Linked DNA regions of Homo sapiens. The protein of the gene in region 1 purifies or fractionates together with the protein of each later gene. This does not show direct contact. Each region holds a gene or a part of one and is shown on either strand. Other genes may lie near its edges.

What was found. Proteins that work in one complex are often made in the same cells at the same time.
Region 2: the proteins of FLVCR1 (region 1) and TMEM9B purify together in Homo sapiens (co-immunoprecipitation; 4 studies listed by BioGRID and IntAct, with this or other methods). This does not show direct contact.

Annotation. Positions count from the first base shown.
Region 1 is NC_000001.11:212,882,264-212,889,285, reverse strand, and holds part of FLVCR1 (choline/ethanolamine transporter FLVCR1), read right to left. Parts: intron 5,916-7,022; coding exon 5,848-5,915; intron 3,994-5,847; coding exon 3,890-3,993; intron 1,396-3,889; coding exon 1,285-1,395; intron 798-1,284; coding exon 692-797; intron 141-691; coding exon 29-140; intron 1-28.
Region 2 is NC_000011.10:8,961,440-8,968,548, reverse strand, and holds the start of TMEM9B (transmembrane protein 9B isoform a precursor), read left to right. Parts: upstream 1-4,106; 5' UTR 4,107-4,235; coding exon 4,236-4,340; intron 4,341-6,365; coding exon 6,366-6,457; intron 6,458-7,109. UniProt on the Homo sapiens protein: Enhances production of pro-inflammatory cytokines induced by TNF, IL1B, and TLR ligands. Has a role in TNF activation of both the NF-kappaB and MAPK pathways.

The sequences.
Region 1 (7,022 bases):
CTTTTGCCAGGCAAACGCCCTAATTTACCTGTTAATATGATGCCTATAAACATCCAGACACAGAGAAAAATGTTCCCTGCCTTAGGACCATAGTCTGATGTGAGCTTTCCTTGAGCCAATGTGAACAAAATTCCAAATATCTAAAATACAATAAGAAAAATCATTCGTTATTAAGTTAAATTATTTAAAGCAAGTATAAAGTTTTCACCAGAACTTTTCTTATTTTGGTTATATGATTTGGTTTCTAGAAACATTCATTGAAAAGTTGAATTGTTAAAACAAAAACCACGGTCAGGCTGGGTGCAGTGGCTCACACCCACTGTAATCCTAGCACTTTGGGAGTTGAGGTAGGCGAATTGCTTGAGCCCAGGAGTCCGAGACCAGCCTGGACAACATGGCAAAACACCATCTCTACAAAAAATAACAAAAAAAATTTAGCTGGGCATGCTGGTGTGCACCTGCAGTCCCAAAAACTCTGGAGGCAGAGGGGGGAGGATTGCTTGAGCCTAGGAGTTTGAGGCTATAGTTAGCCATGACTGCACTACTGCACTCCAGCTTGGATGGCTGAGCAAGACTCTGTCTCCAAAAAACAAAACAACAACAACAACAAATAAAACCATGGTCAAACTCATTACTCACTAGAATATCTGGTATAATAATCATCTCAGGTTTAGAGAAATCAGAGGTTTACCTGTGCAGAAGCATTAAGAAGACCAGATGAAGTACCTTCAGATTCAGGGTAAGTGATTTCAACAGCAAATTCAAAACCCAAAGGGAGGTAACCAGTCATGAAGAAGCTAGGAAAATAAATCCAGAATTACAGAAAGAACTACCAGAAAGTCACAATCACATACTGATGCAATCATTCTGCCTCTCGGGCTTATTCTAATGACCAAATAAGTGAATATTTTGAAGTTGCTATGTCAAAGTAAGGAACTATTATCATTGACCAATCAGCTCAAGGTTACAGAACTGGAAGCAACAAATACACATTTTTTTCTGAGAAAAATTTACTTCTAGTTTTATAAGTTGATTGTAACCAAATAAAGTTACACAGATTAAGTAAGGCTCATCCATTTTTTACCTATGGTATACCAAAAACCAATTTTAAATAATTTTTAATAGTTCTTAAGAATTACATGTTTATATGCATAGAATGAATCCTTTAAAGTTTAAAATATTGAAGAAACTTTGGATGAACTGAAAAAATTAAAGACCAGAGTAATAATACTTCAGAATTATAACAGCATGCTATCATTCCTCCTAAACACATCTGATACTTACCCAAGCACCCCTCCAGTAACAAACACGATGATAATATATCTAAGGTCCAATGTGAAAGTAAAGATAACCATTCCAATAAAAGACAAAATATAAACTATCAGAGTAGTCTGTCTAAAACAAAAACAACAAAGCTGTTAGTATTTTGTCTGATTCTCCTAGGAATACAAAAATCATCACTCTTACCTGTTCAGTAATGAATCTTTGTTTTTCAAAGTTCACCCCTTCTTGTCCATGGAAATATGTATCCACCAAAGCACAAATTTTAAAGCATTTTTAATTTAAGATTCAGCAGCACCAGAAAACCACACCATATCGAATGCTCAGATAGGATCCTTTTATAGGAATAAAATCATTTTTATGCCACCAAATGGGATAGTTCCCTATTCACATTTCAAGATTCAGATCAAATTCTACCTCTTCCAAATGCCTTCTGTAACGACACCAGTTTATAAGAGTCTCTCTTTCTTCCAAATTCCCTTATCATACTGGCACTATAAAACTTATGACATCTATTTTAGTTTGTTATATTATTTAACTTTTCACATGTGAATGCCTTATTTGCTCCATTTAGACCACAAACATCTTAAGAACAGGGATCACATAATGCCAGCCATAATTTTCATCTAAGAAAGATGCACACAACAGGAGTTTGGTGAATGAATGGCAGTTACCCTGAGAAGGAAGCCACAGTGGCAAAGAACACACATCTATGCCTATCAAGTTTTCTAAATGTATAACGGATGAAAGACTTAAGAAATATAATCCTTTACATATGCTCCCTTCATCTATATATCAAGTAGGTTTCACTCTAAGCTATCATTTTAAAATAATGAAGCTAAGGCAAGTGCTGTCTTAAATTATGGAAGAATATGGAGAATTTCAAGATTAGAGATACTTTTGGTAGCGTTTAGACTAATAATATCAAATATATCTTGAGCCTTGAAAGGTACACGGGACACAGTTCCATATTTCATTCATTTATTCCTTAATAGTTTCATTCATTCATTTCCAAGTACAGGGGTAAGTTTTGGCATGTTACAAAATGTGGTGATTCTTTTCACTCCCAGAGCAAAATATGCTGCCTCTGAAACCCCTTTCTTAGTCTCCCAGTTGGTATCATTCATTTTCTTTGGTATTAGCCTTTTGGTGGTTCCATATAATGTACAATTAACAGAGTATATTCTTTTTTTTTTATTTTTTTAGACAGCGTCTTGCTCTGTCACCCAGGCTGGAGACCAGTGGCACGCTATCTCAGCTCGCTGCAACCTCTGCCTCCTGGGTTCAAGCAATTCTCCTTCCTTAGCCTCCTGAGTAGCTGGGATTACAGGTGCCCACCACCACACTTGACTATTTTTTGTATTTTCAGTAGAGATGGCGTTTCACCATGTTGCCCAAGCTGGTCTCGAACTCCTGGCCTCAAGCAATCTACCCGCCTTGGCCTCCCAAAATGCTGGGATTACAGGCATAAGACATTGTGTCAAACCAGCATTTTCACATTATGCATTATATTACAGTTAAGTGGTACTGTAGTCTGGGCGTACTTTAGCCAAAAAGTTCTTACCAAAATAAAGCCTTATGCTCAACAATAATTTTTTGATTGGAAAGAACTACTTTTTTGTTTTTGTATTTAAGCCCACAACATAAAAAAAGAACAACATAGGCCAGGTGCAGTGGCTCATGCCTGTAATCCCAGCACTTTGGGAGGCTGAGGTGGGCAGATTGCCTGACCTCAGGAGTTCAAAATCAGCCTGGGCAACATGGTGAAACACTGTCTCTATCAAAAAGTCAAAAAATTAGCCGGGTGTGGTGGCGCACACCTGTGGTCACAGCTACTCAGGAGGCTGAGGTGGGAGAATCACTTGAGCCTGGAAAGCAGAAGTTGCAGTGAGCCAAGATGGTGCCACTGCACTCCAGCCTGGGTGACAGAGTGAGACCCCACCTAAAAAAAAAAAAAAAAAAGAACAAGATAAAGTCTATCAAAAGTCAAATATTTCTCAGAAATGGCTCTTTTTAGAATAGAAATAATTCCTTCGGAAGTGGTAGGTATGAGTACTGTTAGAAAGAAGGGGCTCATAAGGTATCCAAGTTCTCAGAATTGAAATAAATGTGACCAATAAAATAATACAATACATAGAGTATTGAAACACTTGTTGCTGGGCGCGGTGGCTCACGCCTGTAATCCCAGCACTTTGGGAGGTCGAGGCGGGTGGATCACAAGGTCAGGAGATCGAGACCATCCTGGCTAACAAGGTGAAACCCCGTCTCTACTAAAAATATAAAAAAATTAGCCGGACATGGTGGCGGGTGCCTGTAGTCCCAGCTACTCGGGAGGCTGAGGCAGGAAAATGGCGTGAAGCCGGGAGACAGAGGTTGCAGTGAGCCGAGATTGCGCCACTGCACTCTAGCCTGGGCGACAGAACGAGACTCCGTCTCAAAAAAAAAAAAAAAAAAGAAACACTTGTTAAGTGAAGAGAACCTACTAGTGTTTAGAATCCGTATCTTTAAGTAATAACATGTTTTAAATTTCTTGAAATAAAAAGCAAATTGTCCTTTAAAATCAAAATACCTTTGGTTATACACCATACATGTATTTACTTTCACTTACTTGTATGTTTTAGTATAATCCAGCCATAAGCCACAAAGAATAGAGCCCACCATTCCAGCTACTACTAGCGTTAGCCCAATCCTTCCAGCATTGACTTCTTCTCCCTGAAAAAAATTTGCGTAAGAAGTTGATCAAATAAATGGATTAACTAATTCAGACTCTTCACATTCCCACACCTTTTCATAGTCAATGAAAATAATTAGATAAAACTAAGCACACAGTAGGAAGATTTAGTACATGTGTCAGTGTGGGAGGGGAGGGCAGGTAAAGAATATATAAAAGCATTATATTTTAAAACCAGAAAAAAAGCCTAAAATAATAGAAGAAATAAAAAAGGTAAATTTTCCTTAATCCTCTATGGTTAGAAGTACAATGATTTTTGTTAGGATTCTTAAGTATAGATAGTCATGTGCTCCATAATTACATTTAGGTCAACTCTGAATCATATATACAGTATGATCCTGTAAGATTATAATACTGTATTTTTATTCTACCTTCTCTGTTTAGATATATTTAGATACACAATACTTACCATTGTATTACAACTGCCTACAACATTCAGTAGCATAACATGTTATACAGGTTTGTAGCCTAGGAGCAATAGGCTATACCACGTAGCCTAGGTATGTAGCAGGCTCTACCATCAGGTTTGCGTAAGTACACTCTATGATATTCACACAACAATGAAATTGCCTAGCGAATTTCTCAGAAGGTATTCCTGTCACTAAGCAAGGTATGACACTGTATAGATATCTGAAAAGGAGGTTAATCGATAGCTTTTACATAGTACAACTGCTTTATCCTTTCAAAAGCAGATACGTCAATCAAAACTTGATATTTATTTATCTATATTTATGCTGAGTTCCCTTAAAATGTTTTGTCTTTTTCCATATAACCAATCATATTATTTCCTAAAAATAAACTTAGGTATTGTCACAGGGATAGTAACTTCTGCTTTCCATATTGTGTGTGTGTGTATTTTGTTTTGTTTCGTTTTTTTGAGATGGAGTCTCACTCTGTCACTAGGCTGGAGTACAGTGGCGCTATCTTGGCTGGGATTACAGGTGTGAGCCACGGCGCCCAGCCTGTTTTTTTTTTAAATGGGGATTCACTCTTATTGCCCAGGATGGAATACAATGGCACGATCTCGGCTCACCGCCACCTCCACCTCCCAGGCTCAAGTGTTTCTCCTGCCTCAGCCTCCCGAATAGCTGGAATTACAGGCATGCGCCACCATGCCCAGCTAATTTTGTATTTTTGGTAGAGACAGGGTTTCTCCATGTCGGTCAGGCTGGTCTCGACCTCAGGTGATCCACCCGCCTCGGCCTTCCAAAGTGCTGGGATTACAGGCGTGAGCCACTATGCCTGGCCATACTATGTGCTTTATAAACTGGATTAAATATGTTAAATTAAAATGATGGGAGGCCATTGTTTTGGAGTGAGCTCCCACAGTAGGCCCAACAGACCAGACCACATAGAATGGTGTCACTAGTGCTAGGTGTCACATAATCAAACTGAACTTTAAAATGGGCCACTTTTCCAAAAAAAAAAAAAAAAGGAGATTCATAGCAACCTATCAGATGGGGCCCAGTCCCCTTTGTTTTACTCCTATAAGGAAAGTAACTTTGTAGCAACCAATCTGCTCTTTGTTCCTTGTTTCTGCTTTCTTCAGCCTTTTTCTGCCTATAAAGCCCATCTCCTCTGCTCAGCTCATCAGTACCTTTCTAAATCTTTAGATGGGATGCTGTCCAATAAACGAATTGATAATAAAAGCCAATTAGATATATAAAGTTGTGGAAATTTCATTTTTTAACAAATATATTCTCAATTAAAACAAATGTAAATATTTGATAGCAACAATGTCATAACCCTTAATCTCATGACCCTGCTAACGACAATTATATTGCTAAAGAAAAATTTTTGGCCAGGCATGCAATCTGATATAAGCAGAAGCTTACCTCATAATATGTCAATATCATTTGATTTAATAACGTTGAGACTGAATAAAAGGCACCAGTCATGATACCTACAATAATAAATAAAGATGATATTAAGTCATGATACCTACAATAATAAAGAGAATACTAAAAGTGTGTCATTTACCAGTTCATGAAGTGACATGGAATATTATGTGACAATTGTGGAAATACATTTCTTAACACAGTTGATAAAGGAAATTAAAAACCATTGTCATTCCCTTTCAGAACCTGGACTAATGAATTTAACACCTAACTGTACTAAAGATGTAATAGCAGAACTCTGTCCTAATACTATTATTATTTAGATTGAGATATACTGACCATAAATCATACCCCCACATGCAACACATATATGGCAACCAGTCAAGCAATGGATTGTTTACTGAATTCCTACAATGTACTACTACAGCCAACAAATGTGCAAAGCCTAACAGAAACTGTGCTTCAGAGATCTTACCTTTTTGTATCAAAGACTTACTGAAAATTCATAAGACAAAATCAGTTAATACTTTTTTTTTTGAGATGGAGCCTTGCTCTGTTGCCCAGGCTGGAGAGTAGTGGTGCAATCTCAGCTCACTACAACCTCCGTCTCCTGGGTTCAAGCAATTCTACTGCCTCGCCTCCCAAAGGATACTTTAGAAGTGAACAATAAAAACAACTGGCTATGAGAAGCACAGGATAGGTTTGAATCCTGATGTCTCCTAGCATGTATTGTATGAATTTAGGTAAGACTCTTAACCTAAATTAAGCTAAAACTTAAGTTTATTATTTATCTATTATTAAATATTTTAAGAATATAAAATAGCATAGAGAATACAACAAATATCCTCATATATCACCCGGATTTGGCAAACATTAACATTTTTCCATCTTTGCTTCAGATTCATTTTTCAGACTTTTCCCAATCCTATTCTTTACCAAAGTCAAGCCCTAGCTTGAGCTTGGTGCTTATCATTTTATATATTACCATATATGCATATTCATAAACAATTAGAAGTATTCTGTAAGTATATAAATATTATTTGTATCCATCTGCAACTTGCTCTTGTTACACTATATTGAGATGGTTTTGAGATGTATCCATGTTGATATTTTTTGTTGTAGTTCATTAGTTTTCTGTTGTACAGTATTCTATTATGTTAATATACTTCAAT
Region 2 (7,109 bases), on another chromosome or scaffold:
CGCCTGCCACCACGCCTGGCTAACTTTTTCTATTTTTAGTAGAGATGGGGTTTCACCATGTTGGTCAGGCTGTTCTTGAACTCCTGACCTCAAGTGATCTGACTGCCTCAGCCTCCCAAAGTGCTGGGATTATAGGCATGAGCCACCATGCGCCCAGGCTGGAGTGCAGTGGCATGATCTCGACTCACTACAACCTCCGCCTCCTGAGTTCAAGCGATTCTGGTGCCTCAGCTTCCGGAGTAGCTGGGATTACAGGTGCCTGCCACCACGCCCTGCTAATTTTTGTATTTTTAGTAGAGATGGGGTTTCACCATGTTGGCCAGGCTGTTCTTGAACTCCTGACCTCAAGTGATCTACCTGCCTTGGCCTCCCAAAGTGCTGGGATTACAGGCGTGAGCCACTGCACCTGACCTGTTTTCATTAAATATTCTAAGGTACTGGGAAATCAACAATATTGATTTAGCACCTCTAAAAGGAACTAAAAATTCTCCCCACTTTGGTACTCACCTGCACTGTGGTGTTTTATTTCAGGGAACCCAGTAACATCAGCAGTGGCACCAGCAGCTCTAGAAACATATTCTGTCCCCATAAATTGTTGTTATCATGGTGAACACCAGCAAGTGATGCACTTAGGTGGCTTTACAGGCAGCAGTAGGCTTTACAGTGGGCTGAAAAATCCCACTAAACAGGGCTGAGTAGGAGGGAGCATCCTAGTGGGTGCACACAATAAAGAAGAGGGCTCATAAGACGTTTCCAGAGTATGCTCAGAAATAACTGGAAGGATGTGTGTGTCCCCAGCCATAACCACTGGAGCCACAATACAAGGAAATCACCAATGTTGTGCATAACTCCATTTGTTCTCCTGGACTGGTGTTGCCTAGGCAAGTGCTGGGTAGATCAGAATGGATGGGGTGGAAGAATTAAGGGGCATCCAGAGAGCTATTTGATCACTGGAGGGGAAAGGGCATGGGGGGATGCAGACAGGTGGCAAAACCTGGGTCCAAGATATATTTGTCCCAGATATATAAATTGTCACTTTTCTCCCTCCCCTTCTGACTTGCACACTTACAAAGAAGGTTCCTCTTCCTTTTCTAACCATCCCCCACCAGGGAATTTTTCAGGCCTTACAAAGAAGGGAGAGGACCCAGGCCAGTTGGGAGGGTACACGTGGACCTACATCACTCTTTTTGAGGAAGTGAGTAGGGAAACCTAGTTATAAGGAAGCAAGGAAAATAGAGGGAGAGTGAGTACTAAGGCCAGCGCCGTCTATAAACAGAACAATTCCCGTGTGACCTGAAGGTCTAGGAAGACCCGAGGTGAGAAATCTTCACTCCCCTGCCTACTATGGTGCGCCGGATCCCGCCATTTGCACATCTTTGGGCATCTCAGCATCCCCTCTCATGGTCAGAAAGAAATCAAATGAGGATTCAAGTAGGTGCCTGATACTTTTCTTTTAGACTAACCAGAGGAGCCTCTCCCATTCCCCTTTTCCCTGGTCCCCACAAACATCATATTGTTTTAATCTGTCTCCAGGTATAACAATAATAAGACAAAGTCCTTACCCTCAGAGAGCTCACAATATTTTGGTGGAGGTTTGGGTATAAAGGCAAATGTGAAAACATAATTTTACTATAATGGGGTAAAGTTAAGAAAGAGATCTATGCAAACATAGAAAGGAGTGCACTTAAGTCAGTGAAGGTTTTCTGGCTTAGAAGAACCCTGACCTAAAGGAAAAGTAAGAGTTACCTAGATAAGAGCAGGGCAGAACAAGAGAAACTGATCCCTCCACTTCTATTGAGTCACCTGAAATTATATTCATTTTTTGGCAGACATATACCTCCCCCAAACATTCGGCTCTAGTTGTGCCAGTTCTTCCTTGTCAGCCCTCTTACCTTGGCCTGAGGCTTCATTGTCTCCAGTCAGGCGACTATCTCATAGTCACACTCCACTCACGGCAGCCACATTCTGTATTCCAGAACAGCACTTCCTGACAGCACTATAACATTTTCTAGCAGCCACATTTAAGAGGTCAAAAAACAAGTGAAATATTTTACTAATATATTTTATTTAACCCAACATATCTAAAATATTTAAACCATATTTTTAAATTACTGAAATATTTTACATTTTAAAAATATTGTCTTTGAAATTAAGTGTATATTTTATACAGCACATTTCAATTCAGTCTAGCCACATTTCAAATGCTCAATTGCCACATGTAGCTAGATAGTGGTTATACTATGGAGCTCTAAAATTCCGCCCAGACTGAGTGTGCTTGGTGTTTCTCCATTAAACAGATGAGGCCCATCAGTCTGAGGCACAACTATGTATTTTCTCTAAGTCTCTGTACCCCCAAGGCCTTGAAAACAATTCGGAAGGAAGAGAAGGCCTATGAGGTTTCAGCTACAGCAGGCACTCCCTTTAGATGCCAAGCCTAGAAAACCCTAAACTGATGCCTAACTTGCAGCTGAATCACCTTTCAGCAATCAGATTCAGTGCCTCACCAACACATTTGATCCAGGGAGTCTCCAGTTTGTCCTTTGTCCAGTAGAAGACCCACTACAAAGCCTTGATAATTCATCAAAGTGACAGCACCTTCACTGGGCAGTCTGGTGAGAGGACATCTAGCCCTGCCACCCTGGTTCCTGTTGGGAACAGTATCAGATACGTTGTGTTAGATTCACATGAATCTAAGAATCACATGGGCGAAAAATATTGAGAGCATTCTGTTAAAACATTTCCACAAATTGGGAAAAGACCATCTTTAAAAATCTGTTGGGGCCGGGCGCGGTGGCTCACGCCTATAATCCCAGCAATTTGGGAGGCCGAGGCGGGCGGATCACAAGGTCAGGAGATCGAGACCATCCTGGCTAACACAGTGAGACCCTGTCTGTACTAAAAATACAAAAAAAAAAAAAGAAAAAGAAAAAGAAAAAAAAAATTAGCCGGGCGGCGTGGTGGCGGGCGCCTGTAGTCCCACCTACTAGGGAGGCTGAGGCAGGAGAATGGCGTCAACCCGGGAGGCGGAGGTTGCAGTGAGCCGAGATCGCGCCACTGCACTCCAGCCCGGGGGACAGAACGAGACTCCGTCTCAAAAAAAACAAAAAAATCTGTTTACAGAGGTAAAAACACGGGTATTACATGGAGCATAATTTGAAATCCATTCCCTCATATTCAGCCAAGAACTACAGGCCCAGAGAAGGGAAGTGATTTGCCAAAGGTCATTCAACAAATCCCTAGGGGCTGTGATGATCCGTGTCCTTGCCATTACCTCCCTTGTCTCCACTAACAAAAATATTTCAATGGGAGAATGTGCCGATCTAAGGCACTCCTAAAGTACTTGCTGAGAATGACAGCCCTGGGGAGACAGGTCGGCAGCCCTGAACAGGCACTGCCTTACCCGGGCGTAGTGCCCCAATTCGCCACCTCTTGGAGTCCTAGGCGGAGGATACTACTGGGGCAGTTGTTTCGCCAATTCCACATCTCCCGGAGCCTGGCCTGGCCCAGCCCAGCCCCGTCGCTGTGACCCACTTCCTAGCTGCAGGCTGGACCAAGGGGAGGCACATGGGGAGCTCCACAGGGAGGCCACGCCCACGAGGGCAGCTCACAGAATTAGAAAGCCGACGGGGTGCTGTGGTCAGGAGGCGCGTGGGCGGCAGGTTAGTACTTAAGGTGCAGAGACCACCCCCAACCCTTTGACTGGCGGTGGGCATCCCGGAAAGGCATGGCTCGGCCAATTCCAGCCCCGTTTCCACGCTCAGCACCCGCCCTGCCTGTGCGCGAACGGCTCCGGCCCGCACGGGTCGCCAGAGGCGACTGTGTGACACTCGGAGTTTGCTGGGGTCTCCGTGGGCGGGAGGACTTTCCAGCGCAATGGCGACTCCCTAAGCCCCGCAGCTTCTGCGCCCGGGAAAGATATCCAAGAGATGCAAAGCTCTACTGGGCCCAGGCTGCCACCCCAGAGGCCCCCTTCCGTCCCGGGGCCGGGGCTAGGCCAAGGCGGGCACCAGGACTGCCCAGCCTCCCGGCCCTTCGCACTGGTAACCGGTTCCGGGGCGGATGCTTTTTGCATCTGACCCGGCGCGCCCGGTGACGCCTTCGCGTCCAGACGGAAGTGCGGGCGGAGGATCCCCAGCCGGGTCCCAAGCCTGTGCCTGAGCCTGAGCCTGAGCCTGAGCCCGAGCCGGGAGCCGGTCGCGGGGGCTCCGGGCTGTGGGACCGCTGGGCCCCCAGCGATGGCGACCCTGTGGGGAGGCCTTCTTCGGCTTGGCTCCTTGCTCAGCCTGTCGTGCCTGGCGCTTTCCGTGCTGCTGCTGGCGCAGCTGTCAGACGCCGCCAAGGTGAGTCCCGCCCAGCCTCGCTCCTGACGGAAGCTCCTCCCCTACCACCGGCCTTGCGGAAACTGGGTCTGCCAACCTGCTCCTTGGCCCATTCCTGACAGCCATACGCCTGGCCTCACAGCTCCGGCAGACCCCCGCCGCCACCAGCCCCGCCCCTCCCGACTGCCCGGCGGCACTCTCGCCCTCAGCCCCGACAGCCTGGCAGGCAGCGCCCCACGGTCGTCCCCAGCCCCGACAGTGCCCACAGTCCGGACAGCAGCCCCCCACCGCCTTAACATTTCCCTTCCCAGCCCCGGCTGCACGCATCTTACACTTGACAACCTTTTCACCTCCGAGAGCCTTTAACTTTCCACCCTAAGCTCTTGACAGCCCACCTGCGCCCTCCGCCAGCCTCACAGGCCCCGCATGCCCCAAGCCAGAATGATAGGAAGCCCCCATCTGACAGAGCCTTCCCTGTCAAGGGCCGACTCAGCTCAGCTCACCCCTGAACACTTCCCTTCCTGTGGTGGGAACTTGCCCCTCCTGGCCTACTTCCCTCCCAATAGGGCCTACGGAGCATCTCTCACCTGCTTCATATTCTCACCTAACTCCCTCCACGAGTCCCTTGGTGCCTTTCTTGCTTTCTCTCTTCCTGATAATTTAGTGGGTAAGGGAAGAACCAAACTGCAAGAGAGGTGAGGTTGTGGCCTCCCTGGTTCGATTTCTTGACCTTCTAGTTCCCTCATACTGTTCTCTGGTGCCCCAGCTCTCCAGACCTGCCCTAGCTCCATGCATACCTGTGCTTCCTCTTTGATGAGCTAGCTCATCATTGGGGGAGAACAGAAGGGATTCACATTAGTATGATGGGAAAACAGAATGACATTGCGTTTTTAAAAATAAGAGCTTTAATTTATAATATCTTTAAATGTAGGAGTGGGGAAAGGTTACAGGCAGGCAAATGTTTTTGATTCAGAGATTCTTTTTGAAACCATCTCTACCTCCTACCAGAAACAGGGACAGCAGCACGTCTCCTGACTTTGAAAACATTGCTGGCACCCTCTGCATATCTTGCCTCATAACTTTATGTATTGTGATCATGTATTTATTTTTCAGTCTCCTTTACTAGGGTGTGTCCTGGTTATGGGCAGAAACCATGTCTTATGCTTATCTGAATCCACCTTATTGAGCACAAGATCTAACACAGAGCAAATGCTCACTAAGTGGTTGCTGAATACGTTTGTGAATTGTCAATAGCTCTGCCAGACATATCACTGTATATAGGAGGAGTGGGCAAGGTCCTCTGGGGAATGATAAGCCACTTCCTTCTCAAACAGATTCCCCTTTGCTGAGGAAGCATCTCTTCTTTTCTCTATCCAGATACTTAGTCACCTGTTCCTCCACCTCTTGAAACTTGTTTTGTTGGTAGTTGTTCTGTCTGTCAACCAGGAATTAGAAGCAAAGTTTCCTGGGAAGAGTATACTAAACTGATCTCAGAGTCAGGCTACTTCCTGTGTGTACTTCCTTTCTAGTTGTAGGTGGGTGCCTCTAACATTTCATCCCTTCTACGGGACTCTGGCCCAACCCGTTTTATCAATGTCAGTGCCTTCTACCAGAGGGTGAAAGGATGATAGGTAGAATTGTGACCTTTTTTGTGAATAATTTTTAGTTTCTTTCCCATCCTTTAGTAATGAATATTCTTATTTACAGGCACAACTATCTGCTTACCATGTGTCTTTCTAGTGGCAGATAGATGGTAATAACATTAACATAATTTGATTGTCATGTGACCCATAAATATGGTTAATAAGTCTTAGATCATGTATTAGGTATTATTTCAAAATAACTACATGTAATATATAATGATTCATTGGCATTACCATAAAGGACTGTGGCTTTTAAAAACTGTGTCTGTTAAAGTTTTAAATGAATGATTTTAGAATACTTGGTATTCTAAAGAGGATGCTTGGCAAAATGTATATGGTACAGTTTTTAAAAATATTGATGATAAACTGTCAACGCACTATACTGTTTCCATTTTGGTTACAGAATTTCGAGGATGTCAGATGTAAATGTATCTGCCCTCCCTATAAAGAAAATTCTGGGCATATTTATAATAAGAACATATCTCAGAAAGATTGGTAAGTATCTGGATTACTGAATTACCTGTCACATTTGTTTCTGTGGTTGTCAGTGTTATCCCAGAATGTTCATCAAATGCATAGTTTTCTTTTTAAGTATTTCATTTGAAGCAAAAATGTGAAATTCTACTTCCATTTGAAAAAGTGAGAGTGAGGCCCTACGTGCATGATGCCTGCAGGCCTAAAGGTATACAGCCAAAACACTAAGACCCATGTAGGCAGAGTTTCATGGGAGCATATGACTGGGTTTGTGGCACCTAAACTACCCATAGCTATCTTGCTGTACTCCCTCAAGTTTTGGTGAGGGACCTTTCTCCCTCTTGCTTTTCAGTGGAAGGTTAGCAAGCCTCGTTTGTCTGGGTTATAATTTTTACAACTTGTAGGTTTTGATGATGTATTGCCAAGTATGGGAAGCTATGTTTAAAAGTGTCAGAAGGCTCAAGAAGAAGTGGAAATGAGCTATGTAGTCAGAGTTTCCCATTTGGTGTAAATGAAGAAGTTACAGTTGTGCCAAGATATTGACCTGTTCAGTCCTTGGGCAGTCAGGCAGGCCTGTGATGACTGGGGGATCCTGACTGACTAGCCACCAGCAGCCTTCTCTGCTTATCCCAGCAGACCTGACAAATAGCTTTTTCTACGTGTGCCATGAAGC